7 linked regions of the Homo sapiens genome follow. The protein of the gene in region 1 purifies or fractionates together with the protein of each later gene. This does not show direct contact. Each region holds a gene or a part of one and is shown in the gene's direction. Other genes may lie near its edges.

Evidence for each region.
Region 2: the proteins of MYH10 (region 1) and LLGL1 purify together in Homo sapiens (co-immunoprecipitation; one study listed by IntAct). This does not show direct contact.
Region 3: the proteins of MYH10 (region 1) and DCTN4 fractionate together in Homo sapiens (co-fractionation; one large-scale study listed by BioGRID). This does not show direct contact.
Region 4: the proteins of MYH10 (region 1) and GOLGA4 fractionate together in Homo sapiens (co-fractionation; one large-scale study listed by BioGRID). This does not show direct contact.
Region 5: the proteins of MYH10 (region 1) and MAP3K3 purify together in Homo sapiens (tandem affinity purification; one large-scale study listed by IntAct). This does not show direct contact.
Region 6: the proteins of MYH10 (region 1) and POC5 purify together in Homo sapiens (co-immunoprecipitation; one large-scale study listed by IntAct). This does not show direct contact.
Region 7: the proteins of MYH10 (region 1) and OCRL purify together in Homo sapiens (co-immunoprecipitation; one large-scale study listed by IntAct). This does not show direct contact.

The regions. Positions count from the first base shown.
Region 1 is NC_000017.11:8,508,726-8,512,225, reverse strand, and holds part of MYH10 (myosin-10), read left to right. Parts: intron 1-1,040; exon of another isoform or gene 1,041-1,100; intron 1,101-2,276; coding exon 2,277-2,414; intron 2,415-3,137; exon of another isoform or gene 3,138-3,475; intron 3,476-3,500. UniProt on the Homo sapiens protein: Cellular myosin that appears to play a role in cytokinesis, cell shape, and specialized functions such as secretion and capping. Involved with LARP6 in the stabilization of type I collagen mRNAs for CO1A1 and CO1A2.
Region 2 is NC_000017.11:18,235,635-18,239,134, forward strand, and holds part of LLGL1 (lethal(2) giant larvae protein homolog 1), read left to right. Parts: intron 1-972; coding exon 973-1,126; intron 1,127-1,200; coding exon 1,201-1,305; intron 1,306-1,846; coding exon 1,847-2,139; intron 2,140-2,432; coding exon 2,433-2,580; intron 2,581-2,821; coding exon 2,822-2,975; intron 2,976-3,500. UniProt on the Homo sapiens protein: Cortical cytoskeleton protein found in a complex involved in maintaining cell polarity and epithelial integrity. Involved in the regulation of mitotic spindle orientation, proliferation, differentiation and tissue organization of neuroepithelial cells.
Region 3 is NC_000005.10:150,749,018-150,752,517, reverse strand, and holds part of DCTN4 (dynactin subunit 4), read left to right. Parts: intron 1-3,500. UniProt on the Homo sapiens protein: Part of the dynactin complex that activates the molecular motor dynein for ultra-processive transport along microtubules.
Region 4 is NC_000003.12:37,295,271-37,298,770, forward strand, and holds part of GOLGA4 (golgin subfamily A member 4), read left to right. Parts: intron 1-816; coding exon 817-949; intron 950-3,500. UniProt on the Homo sapiens protein: Involved in vesicular trafficking at the Golgi apparatus level. May play a role in delivery of transport vesicles containing GPI-linked proteins from the trans-Golgi network through its interaction with MACF1. Involved in endosome-to-Golgi trafficking.
Region 5 is NC_000017.11:63,628,917-63,632,416, forward strand, and holds part of MAP3K3 (mitogen-activated protein kinase kinase kinase 3), read left to right. Parts: intron 1-3,500. UniProt on the Homo sapiens protein: Component of a protein kinase signal transduction cascade. Mediates activation of the NF-kappa-B, AP1 and DDIT3 transcriptional regulators.
Region 6 is NC_000005.10:75,686,438-75,689,937, reverse strand, and holds part of POC5 (centrosomal protein POC5), read left to right. Parts: intron 1-772; coding exon 773-926; intron 927-2,609; coding exon of another isoform or gene 2,610-2,728; exon of another isoform or gene 2,729-2,990; intron 2,991-3,500. UniProt on the Homo sapiens protein: Essential for the assembly of the distal half of centrioles, required for centriole elongation. Acts as a negative regulator of centriole elongation.
Region 7 is NC_000023.11:129,585,259-129,588,758, forward strand, and holds part of OCRL (inositol polyphosphate 5-phosphatase OCRL), read left to right. Parts: intron 1-1,743; coding exon 1,744-1,860; intron 1,861-2,920; coding exon 2,921-3,005; intron 3,006-3,500. UniProt on the Homo sapiens protein: Catalyzes the hydrolysis of the 5-position phosphate of phosphatidylinositol 4,5-bisphosphate (PtdIns(4,5)P2) and phosphatidylinositol-3,4,5-bisphosphate (PtdIns(3,4,5)P3), with the greatest catalytic activity towards PtdIns(4,5)P2.

The DNA.
Region 1 (3,500 bases):
AAGTGGCATCTTACAGTTTGCAAAGAGATTCACAGTCGCAAACCTCCCAGGATCTATAGCATTCTGTAGAAGACCTAACTTGTTCTTCATGTTGTCAGTGATTCTGTTGCTCACTCCATTCATTAGATAGACATCTACTACGTGGTTTGGCTAATAAGAAACGCTCAGCACTGACATAGGAGGTGGCCAACAGTCAGAATGAGAATTTTTAAAAATTAGCCCTTCCCTGGTACTTAACTTTCTTTTTGAAATACAGGCTGTACTCATGAGGCACAATTTTTGGATTGTGATTGAAACAGACAAATGTGCTTTTTAAATGGTCTTTATATTTTAGAGGTACAGCCTGAAGGTTTTACAAGTGAAATATGATGTCTGGGATTTGCTTCAAAATAACCTAGGGGGAGAAGGGAGCAGGTGGAGGCACACATGAAATGGAATTGACCATGAGTTGATGCTTGTTAAGGTCAAGGTGATGCTTCTGTGTGGGGCTTATTATGCTGGTCTGTGTGCTTGTATGTGTGTTTGAAATTTTTACAAGAAAACACTCATTTTTTGCCATGGTTTCATTCTAAAATTAACGATGAGTAAATTATTTAGCCGAAGTTACTCTTGAACATTTCCTTAAGTTGGCCATGTGTTGATTTGTACAACCCTAGTTTTGGTTTTTTGGGGTTTGTTTTTGTTTTTGTTTTTTTGTTCTGTTTTTGAGACGGAGTCTCGCTTTGTTGCCCAGGCTGGAGTGCAATGGCGCAATCTCGGCTCACTGCAACCTCCACCTCCTCGGTTCAAGTGATTCCCTTGCCTCAGCCTCCCCAGTAGCTGGGATTACAGGCGCCTGCTACCACGCCCAGCTAATTTTTGTATTTTTAGTAGAGACGAGGTTTCACCACGTTGGCCAGGCTGGTCTCGAACTCTTGACCTCAGGTGATCCACCCACCTCGGCCTCCCAAAGTGCTAGGACTACAGGCGTGAGCCACTGCGCCCAGCCTGGGTTTTGTTTTGTTTAACTTTTTTTTTAATTTCGTTTTTTGGAGGGGATGGGAGCTTTCCACCAGAAACCAGAAATCCTGCTAGACAAATTCTAAAAGAGCTGTAACACTTTGTTTTTAATTTTAATTTTTATGCGTATATATTAAGTGTGTGTGTGTGTATGTATGTATGTGTGTATATATATATATATATATATATATATATATATATATATATATATGGGGTACATGAGATGTTTTGATACAGGCATGTAGTGTGTAATAATCACCTCATATAAAATGGGGTAATCTATCTGTGATCCTGTGTAATAGCATGTTTATCATAAACAGTAATGTAGATTATAAAGATCTGCACGTTCTAATAAAAATACATGTAAACTCTATGCTCCCGCCCAGTTTGATGAGGTGCTTCTGCTGTGAAAGGTACACTTGAACTGAGACAGCTCATTTCTCACGACCTGTACTATTTAAATTATTGTTTTCATGTTCTCTTTCTCTCTTCTTTGGCCGAACATGTATATAGTTGGATTCAGCTAAATTAAATACACATTTGATGAGTGCTACTACATTATTCATGTTTGTCTGTGTTGCTATTATTCCAAAATGTGAATTTTAATTACTATATATTATTCCATTTAACAAATGTGCCAACATTTAATTACCAAGACCTTTTTGTAGCATGTTCATAGTTACTCAATATTATAAATAACTTATCACTGTATGTCTTTTTATATAAATTGCATCTGTGACAATTTCCTGAAATTGCTGGTTGAAAGGAAAGGCTCATTTTTAAAGCTATGTTTTGCCATGTTGGCTTCTAGAAGGATTGACCCAGTTTGTACTTTAGCCTGTAGCGGATACAAATGTCTATTTCACATAACTGCATTTCATATTTTTTTAAATATCCTTGGCATTTTGAGAATCAAAAATTAGTATCTAGGCTGAGGCGGATGGATCATGAGGTCAGGAGATCAAGACCATCCTGGCTAACATGGTGAAACCCCATCTCTACCAAAAAAAAAATCAAAAAATTAGCCGGGCGTGGTGGCGGGCACCTGTAGTCCCAGCTACTCGGGAGGCTGAGGCAGGAGAATGGCGTGAACCCAGGAGGTGGAGGTTGCAGCGAGCCGAGGTGGCACCACTGCACTTCAGCCTGGGCAACAGAGCGAGACTCCGTGTCAAAAAAAAAAAAAAAATTAGTATCTCATTGTAATGCATTCCTGTGCACAATGAATGTGTGGTCAAATCTCGAGAAAGTGGCGAGACTGACTGTGTGTTCTTCACAAGGACCTGGAAGAACAGCTAGACGAGGAGGAAGGGGCTCGGCAAAAGCTGCAGCTGGAAAAGGTGACAGCAGAGGCCAAGATCAAGAAGATGGAAGAGGAGATTCTGCTTCTCGAGGACCAAAATTCCAAGTTCATCAAAGTAAGAGAGTGTTCCCACAAAAAGCTGATTTTAGTTACAGAAAATATTTATATAATATTATGTTGATACACTCATTGAAAGTGAACTCAAACAGAAATTTCTCAAGATTTTAGGTTCATTTACTGAATTTTCTCTGTAAGTCTCTACTTGTATAGATTTCTAAAGATACAGGCACCATTGAATTTTTTAAACCTTATCAAATATCCTGATAATCTTTTAGACTTGTAACATGTGCAGTTTGTGCATAATGGTCACTCAATGATGACTTGTCTCCATCTGTGCAAGCATTAATTCATCCACCATTGACTGTGGGACTCTGAATACCAGGCAGCTGGGCCAAGCTCCCGGGGTGGGCACCAAGACGTGTAAGCCTTTCTGCCCTTTTGGAGTACAGTCGTGTGTTGTTTAACGATGAGGACACATTCTGGGAAATGCATTGTGAAGTTATTTTATCCTCGTACAAACATCATAGAGTGTATGGACACAAACTAGATGGTAGAGCCTGCTATACACCTAGACCAGACGCTGGGCTGATTGCATCTAGGCCACACACTTGTACAGCATGTTACTGTCCTGAATACTGTAGGCAGTTGGAACACAGTGCTAATAAGTACTTGTGTATCTAAACATATCCACACAAAAGTCCAGTAAAAATATGATAGAAAAGGTACGGTAAAAATGATAGAAAAGATTTAAAATGGCACACCTCTATTGGGCACTCACCATGAACGGAGCTTGCAGGACTGGAAGCTGCTCTGGGTGAGTCAGTGAGTGAGCGCTGAGTGAATGTGAAGGCCTAGGACATTGCTGTACATGACTGCAGACTTTATCAACATGGCACACTGAGGCTGCAGTACATTTATTTTAAAAATAGAGTAATTGCACTGTGGTGTTATGACAGCTCTCGATGAAGTTTTCAGCTCCATGATCATCTTAGGAGACCACTGTCGTGTATCCGGTTCATCATTGTCCAAAACATCGTTCTGCAGCATGTGATTGTGTACAGTCTGCTGGGGGAGGCAGTGCCGATAGAACTTATTTTCTCTCGAGTCAAAGTTGACCTTTATGAGGAATACAGAACCCAAG
Region 2 (3,500 bases), 9.7 Mb from region 1:
CTGGCCCCTGGTGGGACCAGGTAGTTCCTCCTTGCCCAAGGTGGTTTGGAATGAAACCTCCCTGGACCTTGGTTCAAGGTGCTGCCCTGATCTGCCTTTTGGCCTGGAACTGAGCTCTACCAAACCCCAGGGCTCCACCCGCCCAGCCTGCCTGCCCTGGGACTGGAAAATCTGGGCTGGCCCACGCTGAGCTGCCCAGGGAAGGTGCCAGAGAGCCCAGCGTGGGCCTGGCGGGCGCTGACGTGCCCAGTGACTCAGGTCTCAACTTCCTGCCCTGCCCCCACTCCCGCCTGTGCTGGGACCCTCAGGCCTCTGACTCTGGTGTGCCCTTCCCTGCTGAAGAGCTTGCCGTGGCTTTCAGGGCTGCTGGAATGAGTCTCAACCACCCCCACAGTCACACACCTCTCACGCCCTGGCTCTGGGCTTTCACCACCGCCTGGGGCCCTGCTTGGACTCTGCAGCTGTGTCCCAAGGCTGCGCCCTAGATTTGTCTACTCCTTCCCCTGCCCCCTCCCTGCTTTCTCCCGGCCTCTGTAGTCTTCCTGCTCCTCCACCTACGTGGCTGCCTTGGGCCCCATGCAGCTCCTCCCCCGGGATGCCCCATGCTCTGTTCTGTGACTGCCTTACTCTTGATCACCTCTGATGGCTGCTCCAGTGCAGGCAGAACCCCCAAAGTCCTCTGTTCTCTACATGTCCCCCTTTGCCACCTCCTGTTAATCAGGGTGGTCATTTCCACCTTGTTTGGTTTAAAGGCTCCAGGTGCATATGGTGCATGTGGCCTGGCCTATAACAGGTGCACAGTGTACCTGTGCTGTCTACAGTAGGTGCCTATTGTTTTTTGTAAAAGTAGGATTCCGGTCAGTGTTTGGCACGTGCAGTAGGTGCTTAGTGAGTGGTTATCAGATGAGTGAATGGAGGGGCGTGCAGGCCTCCCAGGAACTCGGGTAGCCCTGACATCTGCCCTCCCTGCAGCCATGAGGACGGCACCGTGAGGTTCTGGGATGCCTCGGGTGTGGCGCTGCGGCCGCTCTATAAGCTGAGCACAGCTGGCCTCTTCCAGACAGACTGTGAGCACGCTGACAGCCTGGCCCAGGCTGCCGAGGACGACTGGCCACCCTTCCGCAAGGTGGGCCCCTCCCCTGGCCCTGATGAGCTGGTCCTGACCCCGCCTGGACTCATTACTCCTTCCCATCCCTCTAGGTGGGCTGCTTCGATCCCTACAGTGACGATCCCCGGCTTGGCGTGCAGAAGGTTGCTCTCTGCAAGTATACAGCCCAGATGGTGGTGGCTGGCACTGCAGGCCAGGTAGGGCTGGGTGTCCCCTGGGTTGGAGATGTCAGGGAGGGCTTTCTGGAAGAGATGAGCTGGAGGGTCTGGTGGAAAGGGAGATGGACTGGCACAGGCAAAAGCCAAGGTGGGAATAGGGCTCTGGGTGGGGCTGGCTGGGGTGAGGACAGATGGGAAGTGGGCCTGTCGCTGGGGGAACCACAGTGTTGAGAGGAGGGAACTCATGTCAGTGCTGTGCTCCGGCACTCACATGACATACAGGAGGTGCTCAATGTGTCCTTATTGCTAAATGGGAGATAGAGGCTCAGGGTAAGGGTGGACACTTTGCCCTCAGAGGGCAGGGACTAGTGTGTCTTGGTCACCACTGTGTTCCTTGTGCTCAGCCAGGGCCTTGGTATACAGTAGGCATTCAGTGAGTGCTTGTTTAGCTGATGAACTGAAGACAGTCCTAGAACCACCTTGGTGGTGGCTGGGGCTGCTTCAGAGGCTCCAGGCTGAGTGGGGCCCAGGGCGGCCCCTCCCCTGCGCTGATGCTCCCCCTGCCTGGCTGTGGGCTCAGGTGCTGGTACTGGAGCTTAGTGATGTGCCGGTGGAGCAGGCGGTCAGCGTGGCCATCATAGACCTCCTCCAGGACCGCGAGGGCTTCACATGGAAGGGCCACGAGCGGCTGAGCCCACGCACGGGGCCGCTGCCCTGGCCTGCTGGCTTCCAGCCCCGTGTCCTGGTGCAGTGCCTGCCGCCAGCTGCTGTAACCGCTGTCACACTCCACACCGAGTGGAGCCTCGTGGCTTTTGGCACCAGTCATGGCTTTGGCCTCTTCGACTACCAGCGCAAGAGCCCTGTGCTGGCCAGGTGTGTGGGGTGGGGCCGGCTGGGCAGTTGGAGCCCCCAGCGAGATGGGGTCTGGGCTTCCGTTTCCACCTCTAGTGTTTGGTGTGGCAAAGGCCACTAACCTCCATTGCCCTATAAGAAATAACCTGGCAGCTCCAAGAAGGACATTCTCAGTACCACCTGCAGCTGGGTCCATAGGACTGCGCCAGAGGGGCTGTGACTCCCTGACCTGGGTGCCTCCACAGGCCAGCAGGAGTGTGGTGGCTGCCCCAGGAGGCTGCTCTATAGCACGACTGGACCCTGTCTTCCCCCAGGTGCACTCTTCACCCCAATGACTCCCTGGCCATGGAGGGTCCGCTCTCCCGGGTGAAGTCTCTCAAGAAGTCACTGCGCCAGTCTTTCCGGCGCATTCGCAAGAGTCGTGTCTCTGGCAAGAAGCGGGCTGCTAATGCCAGCAGCAAGGTGAGCTGGGGTGGGCTGCACAGGAGCTGTGCCTGTGTCCTGTGCCTTGGCCTGGCTCTGGCCTGGGACCCCTGGGGCCTGCTTAGCTCAGTGCTCCTCCCTCGGCAGCCCCTGGGCCCTCCAGAGGGATGGGTGAACTAAGCTGGGTGGTAGAGGAATGGTAACAGAACGTAGGGCGCAAAGCAGGATGCAAGCCACTGGGGTGCTAGGGAGACAGTGTTCAGGAGCCCCCGCCCGGCAGTTGCAGGAAGCCAATGCACAGCTGGCTGAGCAGGCCTGCCCCCACGACGTGGAGATGACGCCCGTGCAGCGCCGCATTGAGCCCCGCTCTGCCGATGACTCCTTGTCGGGTGTCGTGCGTTGCCTATACTTTGCCGACACATTCCTTCGAGATGGTAAGGCAGGGGCAGGGGCAGGGACAGGGCAAGGGTTGGGGGGGCTGGCCTCAATTGGCCACCTGGGAGATGGGTGGTGGCAAGGGAGGTGGTGGGACTGCACCTTCCAGGAGGTGGCTGGGCACGGTGGCTCAAGCCTGTGAGTGATCCCAGCACTTTGGGAGGCCGAGGTGGGCGGATCACCTGAGGTCAGGAGTTTGAGACCCGCCAGGCCAACATGGTGAAACCTCGTCTCTACTAAAAATACAAAAATTAGCCAGGTGTGGTGGCGGGCGCCTGTAATCCCAGCTACTTGGGAGGCTGAGGCAGGAGAATTGCTTGAACGTGGGAGGCGGAGGTTGCAGTGAGCCGAGATCGTACCACTGCACTCCAGCCTGTGCAACAGAGTGAGACCTTCTCAGAAAAAAAGCTTACCATCCAGCTCTCCCAGGGGGACTGCTGGGTCACCCCCAGTCTCTCTGGGGGAGCTGGATGGTAAAGGATTTTTGAGTGAGCTGGGTGGGCCTCTCAGATCTGAGCCAGGAG
Region 3 (3,500 bases), on another chromosome or scaffold:
AAAATTTTAAATTGCTTATATCCTTCTGCCCAGTAATTCAATGTCCAAATGTCTGTCCTGGAGCATTCAAACATGTGCTCAAAAACTTTTACGTATATATATAAAATGTTTATCAGTGAAAGAGAAAAATTGGTATGTTTGGATTTAAGACCACCTAAGGCATTATATACCTCCATCATTTGAGTGTTTGAGTGTTTTAGAACAGATTACACTTAATTTTATCACGAAACTTTATTTTTGCAAATTCTGTATTTCATGGTTAACATCATAGAGTGGAAACATTCTCTGTACAGTCAGTTCAAAATCTTGAGTTGCTTTTGATTTAAGTGATCCAAAGTTTAAAAAAAATTAATAAAATCTTGAGTTGCTATTTATGCTTTATATAAGTAGTAGCATCACTAACTCCGTATTTTTTTTTCTGAGGTTTCATTGTTTAATTTTCTAAAAACATTTTAAACTTGTAAAAATTCTCATTTTGGGATTTTCATAAAAAGTACAGCTTATTGACTAATAAATGAGGAAGCTCATAACAAATTCATTATATGTCATTTGACATAACTAAAATGAAGCAGACTGGCTAAAACCTTTCTATAGATTCTTACACAATTTGGAAGTAAATATGGGTGAAGTTCTTTAGATTCAACTATGTTCTTAAAAATTTAATCCTTGATTCTATTGAATTTGCTCTTTGGTTTAGAATGCTTTGAGCTGTTGATGGTTTTTCTGACTTTGTACATTGAGTTGATAAAATACATACTCTTTTCAAAAACAGAAAGTTAAATAAGTATATCTTAGTTCCTTAAAAATGCTCATTGGTGGGTAGCTATTTACCTGAAGTGTGACTGAAAATAGAAAGATTCTGTAACATCTTTGAAAATTGCCAGTAAGTATTTATGTGTATATGTTTTAGTGTCAGTATAGGAGATAAGTTAAAGAAAGTAAGTTAAATGTTAAAAAGCAACCTCAAAGTGGCATAATGTAGGCCTCAGTGAACTAAAGTATTGTTTTTTCATGTTTGTATTTTGTGTCTTTTTATCAAGTAAAAGAAACAGCCCGGAAATCCAAGTAGATTTCTCAGTTTGTTACTCTGTTAGTGAGTGTTTTATGCTTTTTGGTTTATGAGTCATGAAGATTGGAGAATTTATATTTCAGAACTATAAACTTATGCTGGCTTCTAGAACTGTATCTCCTCTAGGGTATCTCAACAGGGATAATTGAATACCAGGAGCTCTTAAAGCGTACAGATAATTTCATTTCCTCCTTGATGTCATTGGTATCTCAGAAGCCCTGAAACCACTTAAGTTAGAACTATTTGTTTATTTATAAGTACTTGTCTGTAATGTACGGAGAAAAACTTACAATGAGATTATTATGTCTCCCAAATTGCTACTTAGAATAAATTACCAGTTCAAAAGAAGCAATTAGATAAAATATTCAGACGTTTAAAAATATTACAGCTGAAACATTTCTTTCACATAATTATTTTTCATGATTGCCTTAAGTGAGGCAACTTCTAAAATAATATTATACTAAAGTGTTATTTCTGCCATTTCTTGCAAGAGGATACAATGTCACCTTCAGCAAGGTAATTGCGTCCTTTTTGTTTTGAAAAAAGTGATTTTATATGAAATATGTATATTCATGTACTTATCACCCAGTTTAAGAAATGAAACAGCCAAAACAGTTTAAGCCCTCCCCCTACTTTATCTTCCTCTCTGCCCGCTAGAGATAATAATCACAATCCTGAATTCAGTGTTTATTAGCATCCATACATGTCTTTATACTTCTCCACATATGTATGCAGCCACAAACAAATAACATTTTTCACTTTTAAGCAAATGAAAACATACTGTATATATCCTGCTACAACTTTACTCTATCAGCATTATGTTTCTGATACACAGTTGATTCCTGTATGACTCACCACAGTTTACTTATTCCGTCTTCTCTTAATGAACATTTAGGTTGTTTTCATTTTCTTTGCTTTTGAAAAAATATAGCTGCTGGAAGCAATCTTGTATGTGTTTCCTAAGGCACAAGTGTAAGGACTTTTCTATATAACTAGAAGTAAAATTGCCAGTCATAAGTTGTGTACATCCTTAGCACTCCAAAATGATTTAGCAGTCTTTGCTCCTAGTAGTAATATGTAAGAGTAAACTACCTGTAGCTCCAGTTCCTTGTCAGCTCTTAGTACTTTTGGACTCTAAAATTTTTCCAGACTGATGGTTGTGAAATGGTATCTCATTATACTTTTATTTTTCCCTTTATTTGGCTAGCTTTACCAATATATAATTTATATATAATAAAGCTTACCAATTTTAAGTGTAGAATTCTGTGATGTTTGACAAGTGTGTAATCACATAGCCACCACCATAATCATGATACACAACATTTCTGTCCCCCTAGAGAATCCTCATGCCCCATTGCAGTCAGTTTCTTCCCCCAACCTCCCGGCCCCTGACTAGACTGATATGCTTTCTATCACTAGAATTTTGCCTTTTCTAGAAGTGTATGTAATTGGAGTCTTACATTACAGTCTTTCCTGTCTGTCTTCTTTTATTTAGCATAATGCTATTGAGGTTCATCTGTGTTTCTTCTTTATATTATTTCTTCTTATTGTTGAGTAGTATTCTGTTGTATGAACATGTTTGTTTATTCATTCTCCACTTGAACATTTGGATTGTTTTTGGGTTTTGGCTTATGTGAATAAAGGTGCTATGAACATTTGCCTATAACTCTTTGTGTGAATATATGTTTTCATTTTTCTTAAGTGCCAAAGAGTGAAATTATTAGGTCATAGGATAAGTGTATGTTTAATTTGTCTAGAAGCTGCCAAACTATTTTTATTTTTTTTTATTTTTTAAAGTAGAGATGGGGTTTCTCCATGTTACCCAGGCTGGTCTCCAACTCCTGGACTCTAGCAGTTCTCCTGCCTCAGCCTCCCAAAGTGCTGGGATTAAAAGCATGAACCACTGCACCTGGCCAATGCCCAACTGTTTTCCAAAGTGACTGAACAATTTTGGATCCTCCCCAGCAAATTAGGAGAGTTCCAATCCCTTGACAACCCTTGCCATATTGTCAGTCTTACCCATTTTAGCCATTCTAGCACATGTACAGCAGTACTTCACTGTGGTTTTAATTTGCATTTTCTCATTGTGTTTGTTTACCAGCCATATATCTTTGGTGAACTGTCTGTACAAATCTTTTCCCTACTTTTTAACTGGGTTTTGTTGTTGTTGGTTTGTTTTGATTTGGTTTTTTAAACTGAGTTATAAGAGTTCTATATTCTGGATACAAGTCCATTGTTGAATATATGTTTTGCAAATATTTACTCCCAGTCTGTGCCTTGCCTTTTCCTTTTCTCAGCAGTGTGTGTTGAAGAACTCAAGTTTCTAATTTCAGTGAAGTCTAATTTACCAATTTTTTTATTTTATAGTTTGTGTTTTTTGTGTCCTATTAAAAAAACTTTAGCCTAACCCAGTGTCACTAAGATCTACCCA
Region 4 (3,500 bases), on another chromosome or scaffold:
GCAGTGGCGTGATCATAGCTTAACTGCAATCTCAAATTCCTGGGCTCTAGCAATCCTCCAGCCTCTGCCTCCAGAGTGGCTGGGAATACAGGCATATGCCACCACGCCCAGCTAATTTTTAAATTTTTTGTAGAGATGGGGTCTCACTATGTCGCCCAGGCTGGTCTCAAACCCCTGGGCTCAAGCGATCCTTCCGCCTTGGCCTCCCAAAGTGTTGGGATTATAGGCATGAGCCACCACTCCTAGCTCTTCAGTTAATGTTAAGGATACTTTTTTATTTATTGTATCTTTTGACTAACTGCATAATAATAATAGCAAATATAAAAACCAGCTGTATTGGGAGTAAACTTTTTATTTTGATTATTTTCCCCCACTTTAGTAAGAAGAATATCATTTAATCCGTCCTCTCTCTGTTTTAAATAAAGTACAATAAGCCATCCACATTGATGTGTTTTTGTATGTGTGGATTCAACCAACTGGATCAGAAATATTTAGGGGGTGAAAACCATGTGTAGTGAACATGTAGACTTTTTTTCTTCTCATTATTTTCTAAAATATATGTAGTACAACAACTACTTGCATAGCATTTTCATTATTTAGGTAGTTTATGTAATCTAGGGATGATTTAAATTATACTGGAGGATGTGTGTAGGCTATATGCAAATACTACACCATTTTATATAATGGACTTGAGCTCCTGCGGATTTTGGTATTAACAGGGAATCCTGGAACCAATCCCCCACAGATACCAAGGGACAATTGTACTACTCCCATAGTTTTTTTTGACTTTTTTCTAATGAAGCACATTTATATTAGGTTTCTCTACTGAAACAACGATTACGAAATGGCCCGATGAATGTTGATGTACTGAAACCACTTCCTCAGCTGGAACCACAGGCTGAAGTCTTCACTAAAGAAGAGAATCCAGAAAGTGATGGAGAGCCAGTAGGTAAGCTTCATTTTGTCAAAAGGTTAATTTAAAAACTAGAGGAGAGCCAGGCTCCTTGGCTTACACCTTTAATCCCAACACTTTGGGAGGCCAGTGTGGGAGGATCGCTTGAGTTCAGGAGTTTGAGACCAGCCTGGGCAACATAGAGAAAACCCTTCTCCACAAGAAAAACAAAAACAAAAATGAAACCCCAAGAAAACCTAGAGGAGGATTTTGAGAGATTCCAGGATGTGAGCTGATAGATATGGGCTGAGGTAGAAGTGTCCGTGGTCCTAATAGTTTCAGAAAGATGCAAGGGTTTGTTTTGTTTTTTTGGTTCTTTGTTGTTATTTAGGAGAAAATAAGTGTTTTTTGTTTGCTTGTTAGTTTGAGATGGTGTCTCACTCTATTGCCTAGGCTGGAGTGCAGTAGCATGATCTCGGCTCACTGCAACCTCCATCTCCTGGGTTCAAGCGATTCTCCTGCCTCAGCCTCCCGAGTAGCTGGGATTACAGGCACACACCACCATGCCCGGCTAATTTTTGTATTTTCAGTAGAGACGGGCTTTCACTATGTTGGCCAGGCTGGTCTCGAACTCCTAATCTCAAGTAATCTACCTGCCTCAGCCTCCCAAAGTATTGGGATTACAGGTGTGAGTCACTGTGCCCAACCAAAAAAGTTGTTTTAATATGCAAAAATTTCATAGTCTGTAACACCACATTTTCATTGTAATTGAAATTCATTTATTATGCTACACTGTTTTATTAATAGCAGTAGCTAGATTTCATATGAACAGGTCAGTTCTGCTTACATGCTAATAAGTGGGCTATTTGTAATTGTTTGGATATTTTAGTTTTTAAATATTGCTTAAATAGTTCTATATTCATAGATATTTGTATTTGTCCTATTAATTGCTTTTTAACTGGAAAAAGAAGAAATAGCTATATTTTGTCTTAAAATTCAGTTACAGCCTTCTTTGCTTTGAGGCTTGAGGTATATACGCAATAAAATTCCCGTCTTTTATTTCCTAGCTTTTTCTTTCAAAGGGACTTATGATAAACTTGGAGTAAGTAGTTGAGCAGTTAACTATCTGAGCAACCAGACTATGGTGGGGTGGTGGGGCGGCGGGGCCAGTCCCGAAATTCCCAGACATGTGGAAACTTCAGACTCATAAATGTAAAGAGATGGAGAAAGTTGCACTTACCAGAACTCCTCTCAGAAAGAGATTAGAATGTGGTTGGAAAGAATACCGTACTTTATTAATCCTTTTGGGAGGTGAGCTAAGACACATAATTTTGAATAACAAAAGATGATTATCAAACTGTCATTTTAAGGAGGGTGGATTCAGTTAATGTTAGTTAACTACTGTGCCATTCTGAATGGGGTTGAACCTCAAAGAGGTGAATTACTACTAAGCTTCTTCAGATAAAGATTAAACAACTAATACTAAGTAGAGGTTTGGAAGGGTGCCAGTTTATTAGCTGACTAGGGTTGTCCCTTCTTCATCTAAGAGTATAGCAGAATATTGGTGTAAGAATACACTCCTGGTGGGGCGTGGTGGCTCTCACCTGTAATCCCAACACTTTGGGAGGCTGAAGCAGGCGGATTGCCTGAGGTCAGGAGTTCGAGACTAGTCTGGCCAACATGGTGAAACCCCACCTCTACTAAAAATACAAACAAGTTAGCGAGACGTGGTGGTGTGCGCCTGTAATCCCAGCTACTTGGGAGGTTGAGGCAGGGGAATTGCTTGAACCAGGGAGGTGGAGGTTGCAGTGAGCCGAGATCATGCCACTGCACTCCAGTCTGGGCGGCAAAGCGAGGCTCCGTCTCAAAAAAAAAAAGAGGGAATACACACCTGTGTAGTAACAGACTGTTCCTGGAAGTGTCCTTATATTTGTAACCGCCCAAAGGGTTCACCTTGCCCACTGCCTAGACAGAGCTGATTTATCAAGATAGGGGAATTGCAGTAGAGAAAGAGTAATTCACGCAGAGCCGAGTGTGCACGTGACCAGAGTTTTATTTTACTCAAATCAGTCTCGCCAAGCATTCACGGATCCGAGTTTTTAAGAACAATTTAGTGGGTGGGAGGAAGCCAGTGAGCCAGGAGTGCTGATTGGTCAGGTCAGAGATGATATCATAGGGAATCAAAGCTGTCTTCTTGTGCTGAGTCACTTCCTGGGTGGGAGCCACAAGATCAGATGAGCCAATTTATCGATCTGGGTGTTGCCAGCTGATCCATCAAGTGCAGGGTCTGCAAAATATCTCAAGCAGTGATATTAGGAGCAGTTTAGTGGTGGTCAGAATCTTGTAGCCTTCAGCTGCATGACTCCTAAATGATAATTTCTAATCTTTTGGCTAATTTGTTAGTCCTACAAAGGCAATCTAGTCTCCAGGCAAGAAGGGGGTTTGTTTGGGAAATGGCTTTTATTGTCTTTGTTTTAGACTATAAACTATAAACTAAGTTCTCCCAAAGTTAGTTCAGCCTACACCCAGGAACGAACAATGACAGCTTAAAGGTTAGAACCAAGATGGAGTCGGTTAGATTAGATCTCTTTGACTGTCTCAGTCATAA
Region 5 (3,500 bases), about 55 Mb from region 1:
TGTGTTAGGTACCATAAGAAATAATTCGTAGGTTTTCTGTTGCTTTTAACTCCCACAGCAGCTTTGTGAAATGATGCTTTATCTCCATTTTACAGATGAGGAAATTGAGGTTTGGAGAGAATAAATGATTTGCTCAGGGCCTCCTTACCAAATTTTTCTGACTCTGAAGTTCATATTCCTAACTGCTTCAGTCTAAGAAAGTTGTTATTTGTTGTTTTTTTTTTTGAGATGGAGTCTCGCCCTGTCGCCATGCTGGAGTTCAGTAGCGCTATCTCAGCTCACACCAACCTCCGCCTCCTGTGTTCAGGCAATTCTCCTGCCTCAGCCTCCCAAGTAGCTGGGATTACAGGCGCACACCACCACGCGCAGTTAATTTTTTTGTATTTTTAGTAGAGACGGGGTTTCACCATGTTGGCCAGGCTGGTTTCGAACTCCTGACCTCAAGTGATCCACGCATCTTGGCCTCCCAAAGTGCTAGAATTACAGGCGTGAGCCTCTGCGCCCAGCCTGTTATTTGTTTTTAAAAGTTTTGTTTGTTTTTAAAGAATGCCACATTGGAGGAGTGCTGATAATTCAGTTAGTCTCAGTCCATACCACAGAGATAACTGGCTTGTGGCAGCCAAGTGTGCATAGTGATGTTGCTTTTTAGAAGGAAAAAAAACAAAAACAAAACCTCAATCCAGGAAGAAATGCCTAAAAGAGCCACTTGATTTACTTCCTGTCTTTATACATGTCCTCTGAAGTATCAGTTGAAGAACCTGTCTACCTCTAGGAATGTATTTTACTTTGACACAAAATTAGATTCTATAACCCTGATTCACTTGTGTCAGTTGTCCCAGATTTCAGATGACAGTGCCAAACTTTTCCACTAGTGTGTTCTCAGCTCTGGAACTACTAAACAAGTTTGTTCATTAAGTAATGCCAGGAATTGGTTAGCTTCCTGGAAACAGAATTTGTCAACCTGATAAACCAGCTCTTATAATAGCGTCATCTTATACAGAATTAGAAATGATTTCTTCAGTCATACTTGTGGATCTGACTTGAAAAGTGGTGTGTGTATGTGTGTGCCTGTATGTGTATTCACATCCATCTTTGTTCAATATCTGAGTTGAAAGAACTGAAAATTCTCAATACTTAGGGTGGTTAATGTTGTTACTGATAACTCCTTGCATTCCGCTTTTAGGAGTATTGTTGGATGCTCCTCAGAAAACACTTAAACCTAGTCATAATCCTCCTTGTATTGATCCCAATTTATTATTACAGTTGGCCCAATTTTATATATATTTAATAATATCTAAGCCATTTAATATATAAACCTATACATATTATATATAAGCCAATCTTCCTAGCTTAGATGTTATGCTCTAGTTTTTAAAGTTTGGTTGTGAGGATAAAAATCAAAACAAAAAACCAAGTTCCCTTTTTGTTTTTGGGACAGGGTCTCACTGTCGCCCAGGCTGAAGTACAGTGGCATGATCATGGCTCACTGCAGCCTCAACCTCCTGGGCTCAAGTGATCCTTCCACCTAAGCCTCTCAAGTAGCTGAGCCTACAGCGTGCACCACCATGCCCAGCTAATTTTTTGTATTTTTTGTAGAATGTAGTTTTGCCATGTTGCCCAGTCTGGTCTCGAACTCCTGGGCTCAAGCAATCCACCTGCCTCAGCCTCCCAAAGTGCTGGGATTACAGGCATGAGCCACCCTGTCCAGCCAGGTTCCCTTCTTTAAAGAAGCTATAGGGAAATTGTAGAAGGTATAAAATAATTGATGGGATATATATGTGTTAATTTGACAGATGTCTTTTTGTAGATACCCACTTTCTCCTCATTCATTATCCCCTTTACTGCATGCTTTCTATATTACAGCTATGTCACTCTCATACATACTTTTGTATATGTTTTGAAGTGGAATCATATGGGAAGTTATGCTCCTGGTGGTTTTCCTGCAAGTTTTAAATCTAATTTTACTTTCCTGAACAAGCAAAAACCTCTTTATAGGCAACTTTGTCCTTTTCTGTACCTCGTCAGAGGGCATATAGGGCACCAGAGCAGATTTCGTCTAGGAAGAGGGGAGAGGCAAATAAGGTGAGGGGCCAGGCACGGTGGCTTATGTCTGTAATCCCAGCATTTTGGGAGGCTAAGGAGGGAGGATCGCTTGAGCTCAGGTGTTTGAAATCAGCCTGGGCAACATGGTGAAACCCTCGCTCAATAAAAAATACAAAAATTAGCAGGGCATGGTGGTGTGCACCTGTAGTCCCAGCTACTCTGGAGGCTGAGGTGGAGGATTGTTTGAGCCTGGGGGTGGAGGAGGCTGCAGTGAGCTGTGATTGCACCACTGCACTCTAGCCTGGGCAACAGAGTGAAACCCTGTTTCAGTCAGTCAGTCAATCAGTTAATCAGTAGTGGGAGAAGAGACTTGAGCAGTTTTACTTCCTACATTTCATGCTGTTCGTTTCTTTCCACAGGGTATTAGAATATTTCCAAGGGACAGTGATAAAGGGTAGAAGATAGGCACTCTCTTTGGGTGGAATCTTTTGTATTTGCTTCTTTTAAGGTGTGCCCCAAGTCCCCAAATGGCTCAGTTGTCACCAAAGCAAGTGTAACAACTCATCCCTCATGTTCCCTTCACGATCAACAGATTTATTCATTTTCAATCTCCAAATGCTATTTGAATGGGCAAAGATCTCTTAAAGGACCTGGGAAAAATTTGTACAACATGGAATTGGACTGGTTTGTGTTCTGGGTTTTGGCCAGTTGTTTTCAATGTATGAGAACTCTAGTACTCCATGCTATTTCAAGAAAAGGGGATTAAAAGTAATGCCAGTAAGGTGGAGACAATGCATTGCTTGGTCAGCTTAGGGAGGAAAAACAATAGAACTACCCTTTGACTTCCCCATGGGAAGTAGTAGGCCTATAAACTTGTAAAGAGTTGTGGGGGTTGCTGGTGGTGGCGGCATTCAAATGCTAGGCTTGTAAAACAACTTCTGTTCAAAGCAGTTACCTGAGGCCCTTATTTGGTACCTTTTAAAGTGTGCTCTCCTCCTTATGATGCTTTAAGAATAAGTCTGGGACTGACACTGTGCCATAATCCTCTCTCTATGGATTCATCTTTTCATTCAGTACCATATTACATTGTACTGTGTTCTTCACTTCAATTTTTCATCTATTTTTCCTGGTTAAGTTTCTCTGGCACTGGACCAACTGCCCTGTTTGAGCGTGTCCCTTCCCTGCAATGAATTGGTAAATATTGCTGCAGGAAATCTGATTGGAGGGCTATTAAGAAACCATTAAAGGCCAGGCATGGTGGCCCACACCTGTATGTAATCTTAGCACTTTGGGAGGCCGAGGCAGGAGGATCACTGGAGTCCAGGAGTTGGAGACCAGCCTGGGCAACATGGGGAGACCCCGTCTCTACAAAAAATAAAAAAATCATCCAGGCATGGTGGTGCATGCCTGTGTTCCCAGCTACTCAGGAGGCTGATGTGGGAAGGTCACTTGAGCCC
Region 6 (3,500 bases), on another chromosome or scaffold:
TCCAACCTAGGCAACAAGAGCAGAAATCCATCTCAAAAAAGAAAAAAAGAAATTGAAATTATTTTTTCCCATTGACTTTTAATAATAAAATTAACATTGTTTTCATGGGAAAACATTTGGAATTGAAATGAAATAAAATCCATTCTAAAGAATGCAATAGGCCTCTTGAAGTTAAATATTAAAATGAAAAAATAACTCATTACAGCATTAAATTGTTAAGATTAAAAATAAATCCATAATACAAATAATTTTCTGCAGTTCACTACGACATGCAAAAAATGCAGTCCCCTGAGGTTTGGCCTATGGGAAAGTGTGTTGTACCTAGGGTCACTCTGCACTTCAAATACTGAAGGTAACATTTACATTATAAAAATTCTGTTAATATTGCAGGCATGTAGTTTATTTTATTTTTTTCTGAAAGGGCTGTCTGTGGCTCTTAATGTATTTTGTTTAACATCCTACATAAAAGTTTTACAGTAAAAAATGGTGTATCTTTTTGTGAAATGAAAATACATCAGCAATATTCAATGGGACTGGATAAAATTCCCCTTGTTTGAACCTTGATTTTAAGGTTAGGAATGAAAGCATTTTGTTGATGGAGATAATAGAGGTAAGAGGTACCTTTTAAAATAAATTGCACATAGCAGAAGAGGTAAGTGACAAACTTTTTAATATTTCACATGAGAATAATCTCAAAGTATATATCTATTTTTTTGACAGTATTCTTCTTTGTATCTCAAATTGTTTTGCTTTTTAAACATTCTTATTTTAGTTATCTGGAGCTTTGGAAAATGCAAAAGCTGAGATTCAAAGAATGCAACATGAAAAAGAGCACTTTGAAGATTCCATGAAAAAAGCTTTCATGAGGGGTGTATGTGCATTAAATCTTGAAGCCATGACTATATTTCAAAACAGAAATGATGCAGGTTAGTATTTCATTAAAGTTTCTCTGCCTAATTTCAAAAAAAGATTTGAGGAGATTTTGGTGATTGGTATGGTCTACAGTACAAATAATCTGCAGTAGGTATGTTTCATCCAGGTGCTGCTATTCTTAATTCTATGGTGTCATATCCAGACTTAAATCTGCCATGAAAATGAGCTCAGTCATGGTTACTTATGGTATCTTAGATCTGATCAAGTACACTGTCACTCCTAAGTATTTAAGCTAAATGTTGAAAATAATATTTTAATGTATAGCATTATTTTAAATCTCTTTTAACTAAGAATTTTAATGCCTTTTTAAGTACAAAACTTCTAATTTTGTCTTTTCTTAAGTAGCCAAATATTTTGGACTATTTTGGTAAGTATTTGTTATCTAGTCATGGTTTCTCATTTTAGAAATTCCTAATCTTCCTGTTTATGAAAGGCCTCAACTAAGCTCATTGCAGCAAACATAAATATAGACCTATCTATAGAAGTAATTTTATTTTTTTTAAAAATCCACATATTGTCTGACATAAGAGTGGTTTGTGTAGTAGTTTTGTCAGCATGGCGTAGAAAAGCCCATAACTAGAATCCTTTGCCACCAATTTACCCAGGGGCCTGTTTTCCTCATTCGGCCTTAGATTTCTTCTCTGAGCGAAGGAGATAATATAAACCTTCCTTACCTGCTTCCTAGGGGCTTCTTGTGGGATGCAGTAAAACATATCTGAAAACACTTTAAAAGACAAAATGCACTTTAACGTGTAAGATGATAGTCATGATGTAATTATTAATAGTTTTAATTCAAGTCAACGTCTCAAGATTTTGTAAATGATTAACATGATTTCAATCCAATGAATAACTTCTCTGTGCTTGTGATGCCCTTATTTTAAAACATCAACAAACATTTATTATTTAAAGCATGCATATTGTGGATAGGAGTAAGTTTAGGCAAATTGCTTTCTATCTGAAGTGGTTGTGGTTTGTGGGCCATATTTAATTTAGAAACTGAGAATCATGGAATCTCAAGGCTGAATAGTTTATTTTGGTAATACCTAGGTGAGTACTTGATTTTTCCAATAAATGGTCTTTTATTTGAGTATCAGGGTTGAAAACAAACTCACCACCTTCAATGATAGAATAGTCTGTTTCAGTTCTAAGTATCAGCAAGTTGTGTGTCACAAATTGAGAAATTTAATTGTTTACTTGGGAGAAATATGAGTTTCACAAGTAAAGTGACAAATTCCTATTAGAACTTCTTACATTAAATTACAAGAAACCTGTTTCTTATAACCTACTTAAAAAGATTTTGAATTGACTTAGGAGTATTTCCCACCTTAATACATTTACCATCTTAAAATGTAAATTGAAATGCAACTGTGTCTCCTAAAGGCCAATATCCATAAGAGGATTTGAAGAAAATGTCTTCTGCTAATTACACAACATGATTTCTTTTGCTCCTGTTACTTTTGAAACAATCGATGAGAAAGATGACAAGAATGGTAAAGCATGCATTAGCAATAATGTTGGTAGAGCTACCAAAGGCAAAAAAGTTCAGTATAATTCAGTGGATCTGCTTTGTGATATTTAGGTTTTATGACATTTTAATGACACCTATTTTTTTTAGTTCTCATAAGAAAAAAAAATTACTTTTGGCCCCCTTCTATTAAAACAACTGTTTTTTATAGGCCAGGCGCGGTCGCTCACACCTGTAATCCCAGCACTTTGGGAGGCCGAGGTGAGTGGATCACGAGGTCAGGAGATCGAGACGATCCTGGCTAACATGGTGAAATCCCGTCTCTACTAAAAATACAAAAAATTAGCCGGGCGTGGTGGCAGGCACCTGTAGTCCCAGCTACTCAGGAGGCTGAGGCAGAAGAATGGCGTGAACCCAGGAGGCAGAGGTTGCAGTGAGCTGAGATCATGCCACTGCACTTCAGCCTGGGCGACAGAGCGAGACTATCTCACAAAAAAAAAAATTGTTTTTTATAATGCAGTTTTTAATAATGTAAAGTTCCTAATGCATCTGTCTTGTTAGAGCAAAATAAATATTTGGTTTTTTATTTGTACCGATTCTTTGCTGTCTGTAATTTGCAGTACCTCTCATGTTGTGCAGTATCTTAAATCTTACAAATTAGAGGTTTTTATGAAGAAGTTAGAACATGACAAAAAGTCCTTAAAATTATATCTGCCAATTTTACTGTGCCAATTAGGCACAGTAAAAAAAAATACTTGACAAGTGAAAAATTTATTCCAGCTAAAATGAGATTAATTATTAAACTTAAGAGTTATCTGATATCAGCCTATATTAGCAAGAGTTGATCACCTGCCTCTCTTCCCTGACCTTCATACTGTTTCTACATCTCCTAATGTCTGCCACCATCTAAAGATAGACACTCAGAATCTCTACCAAAACAAGTTAAAACTCAGTGTGTGTTTTGTTTTCAAATTAAAAGTATTTTATATTGAATTAGTCCCTTTCATCAGAGGAGTTCAAAGGATCTAGGTAGGCACTGTAATCATTGTTAAACTTCTTAAATAAGCTAACTAACTAATACTCTGCAAATTTTCTATACAGA
Region 7 (3,500 bases), on another chromosome or scaffold:
TACTGACACTTTATTAACCTTTTTAAACCACCAAGGTTTGAGACAGCTGTGCTTCCTAGCTCTTCCCTGTTAAGAGCAGTCCATGTTCTGTCTTTTTATCTTAGGCAGTGCCTTGTGTTGCCTTAATGCCTTAGTACAGGAAAAGCTCCAGTTGGATGTCAGACTTTTTAAAAAGTACATGAATCAGTGCTGCATAATTTCTATATGGCAAGTTTGGAGGCATCTGCTAAAGAATCAGTACACGTGCTGCATTTGGTCCAGAGAGTTAGCAGAGTGCATGATGGACAGTGTTTTGTCTCAAATACCATGTGGATGCTTGGATTTGATATTTGTAACTGGAAAGAAGTAAATGGATGAGCCATTGATAGACATTCTGGCAACTATTAGGAACATGAATATCAAGTGATAGAATCCCAGGGAAAGAAAGGAAGCAAACTGAATGTGGGGAAAAAAAAGAAAGATTTTAAATGGTAACCAACTGTCACACTCCCTTCTCTTTCTTATTCCCTTGGAAAGGCACAGCAGCTTTTAAAGGTCATCAGTGCTTGTTAAAGAACACAATGTTAAGAAGAGACCTCAGCTCGGCTGTAGTGTATGTGGTCTCTGTCAAAGTAGTGACATGCTCCTTTTTTTTTCTTTTAAAGCTACGTGACTGGGGGTTGTGGATGGAATTCACAAGTTGCACAATGTTAGGCAAGAATTTCTTAGTTAAACATACAGAATATATATGACCTCAAGCTAGAGGCGGGGGAGGGAGGAGGATGCAAAAAAATTGGTCATGGTTCTCTCCACTGGGATTTTTATGAAGGGTGCCTTCAGGTGCCTTTACTATTTCAAACATTTTTTCATGTAATTTATATTTGATTACATGAACCTAAGATAACTGAGTTTATTTCCTAGCCATTTCCAATTCACATATAGTGATTGATTTGATTTATGTCACTTCTGGGTTTTTCTCTTACAAAATTCTTTCAGAAGAATATAACAGATAGTAGAAAGATAGATGAAAGGAGTAAAAGCCCCTAGAAATCTTGGCTGAGCTATTCCTAGAAACTGTAACTTCTGGACTCAGACCTTAAACTTTTCGTGGTATTTCTGCCTCTTGGTTAGCTGTATTCAGTTTACTATTTTTGGACCTTAAGGCTTACGAGTTTTAGCACCTTAAGATTAGAACTTCCATCAAGCCTGAAGTATTTACATATGTGGGTCTAATGTTGTGGAGAGTTGTCTTTAATTCCTGAAAACTAAAGAAGCTAATTTAAATCAACATTGAAAACAAACAACAGTATCTGTGGTAAGACCTGAAGGAAGAGTAAGTTAGAAATAAACAAAAACCTAAGTGTAGACCTTGATCTCTCAAACTACTGTATTGACAATTGTAATTTAATAGTCCCCAAGTCACCAGTGCTGTATGGACTCCACTGTGACTGTATCACCGGAGCACTGGTTCTCAGTGTCACCTTTGAAAGGATTTAAACACAAGGCATCCACGTAATAAACATCATAAACGCAAATGAAATGCAGAACAATTAAGTGAAGCATTTAGGAAAGGACATCCTTTAACTATGGGACTCGCTATCAAGTGCCTTCTGACCAGGAGTGTCCCCAGTGAGAAGAAATGGAAAATCTTAAGAGATGAAGATCACATTTTACCTGCATGACCAGAATTTGAAGGACTTTAAGTTATACACCAAAGTCTTTATTCTGAGACCCCTTTGATTCTCATACTTTTCCATCTATTAGGAGAAATCCCTTCTGCAAATGGTTCCTTTGGATGAAGGTGCCAGTGAGAGACCCCTTCAGGTTCCCAAGGAGATCTGGCTTCTAGTAGATCACCTATTCAAATACGCCTGTCACCAGGTAAGTGAGAGTAGACCTTCCCTACAACTTTGGAAGGTGTGTAACTACTATAGGAAATCACAACACCTCACGTCAGCATAGCGCTTTTAACTTTCCCAAGCTACCTGCACACAGTGGCACTGTCAGATCGACTGGGTGGGTGGAAGTGTCCTAGTCACAGATGTCACAGCTGAAGCATGTAAAGGTAAGTTATTTACTAAGACAAAGGCCTAAGTGTAGTTGTGGCAGAGCCAGGACCAAATTAAGAGCACCTGTCTCCTGGCTACCCTCTCATTTTCCCTGGACAGCTGCACACCTGAGTCTATAATGCCTACTTTGGCTATGAGTCATGTAGGCATTAGAGATTGTAAAATCCAAAGCAGATTTTAAACCCATTTTTTAACTTGGTCCTAATTTTTCTTTTAAATCCTAACTAAAATGCCACCCCACCTCATTCGCCCCCAAAAGAGATATTTCTTGGGACTAAATTGAAAGGTAATGTTCTCTTACCTACTGACGAATAATGTAACTTGAAAGCAAGGTTTAGTATGAGCATGCGATTTCCTCCTTCCCCAGCGTTCAGTAGTACTAGCATTTGAATGTGGTTATTCTGTTTGGACTCTGCCTTCTGCTGCTTGTCAAGAGGCTACAAGTAGGCCAGGCATGGTGGCTCATGCCTGTAATCCCAGCATTTTGGGAGGCAGAGACGGGCGCATTGCTTGAGCTCAGGAGTTTGAGACCAGCCTGGGCAACACGGTGAAACCCCATCTCTATAAAAAAAAATTTTAAAGGAGGCTAGAATTAGAACACCTGGTTTCCTGCTCTAGCCATCTAGTCCCCTGCCTTATTAGGTACAGGCTAAAACCTTTGAAAAGATCATTTTCCTATTTGAAATAACATTTCACATGGATTAGAGAAATGCTAAAGGAAAAATGTGTTATTTTCACACCTCCATTTGTAATTATTAACACACATACCACCCTTCCCTTTTGCTTCCTGCTGCTCTTCTGATCCTTGGGTAATCATCATAACCTCAGGAGTGATTATCTTGCCTGTCCCTTCATTCTGACTTCTTTGGTAGGAGGACCTGTTCCAGACCCCTGGAATGCAGGAAGAGCTCCAGCAGATCATTGATTGTCTGGATACCAGCATTCCTGAGACAATCCGTATCCTTTGCGACCAAAGCTTAAGAAGCTGGATGAGTACTTGATCAAACTCTTCTTCGCACCTATATTTGATTTTTGTGGTTCTATATTTATTTTCTTTGTAATATCTTTTATTATAAGATAACCACTGACTATCCACTTGTTTCTCATTTCCTTTCAGGAACTTTTGACCTCTTTCCATATCCAGCTCTTACTAAAAGGAAGCAAGGGGTAGATAACAATGACTTAAAAGCATGGGACATAGAAGCCACAGCACTGGTACTATTCTCCTTCAGGTGATCAGTCACTCCTGCCACCACACGTACTGTTGACAGGGCAGGGAGAAGGATGGGAAACATGGGCACCTGGTTTATAGGACTGCTCCAGTGTCAACTGTCACTCTGCAGGCTATATTCCCCTGACCCTGAAGCTGGGCCAAAGCTGCCAAGAGTCTTTGACCAATTCTGTAACAACTCACCTGCAGGGCACTTGAATCAATAAAATATCAAACCCCCA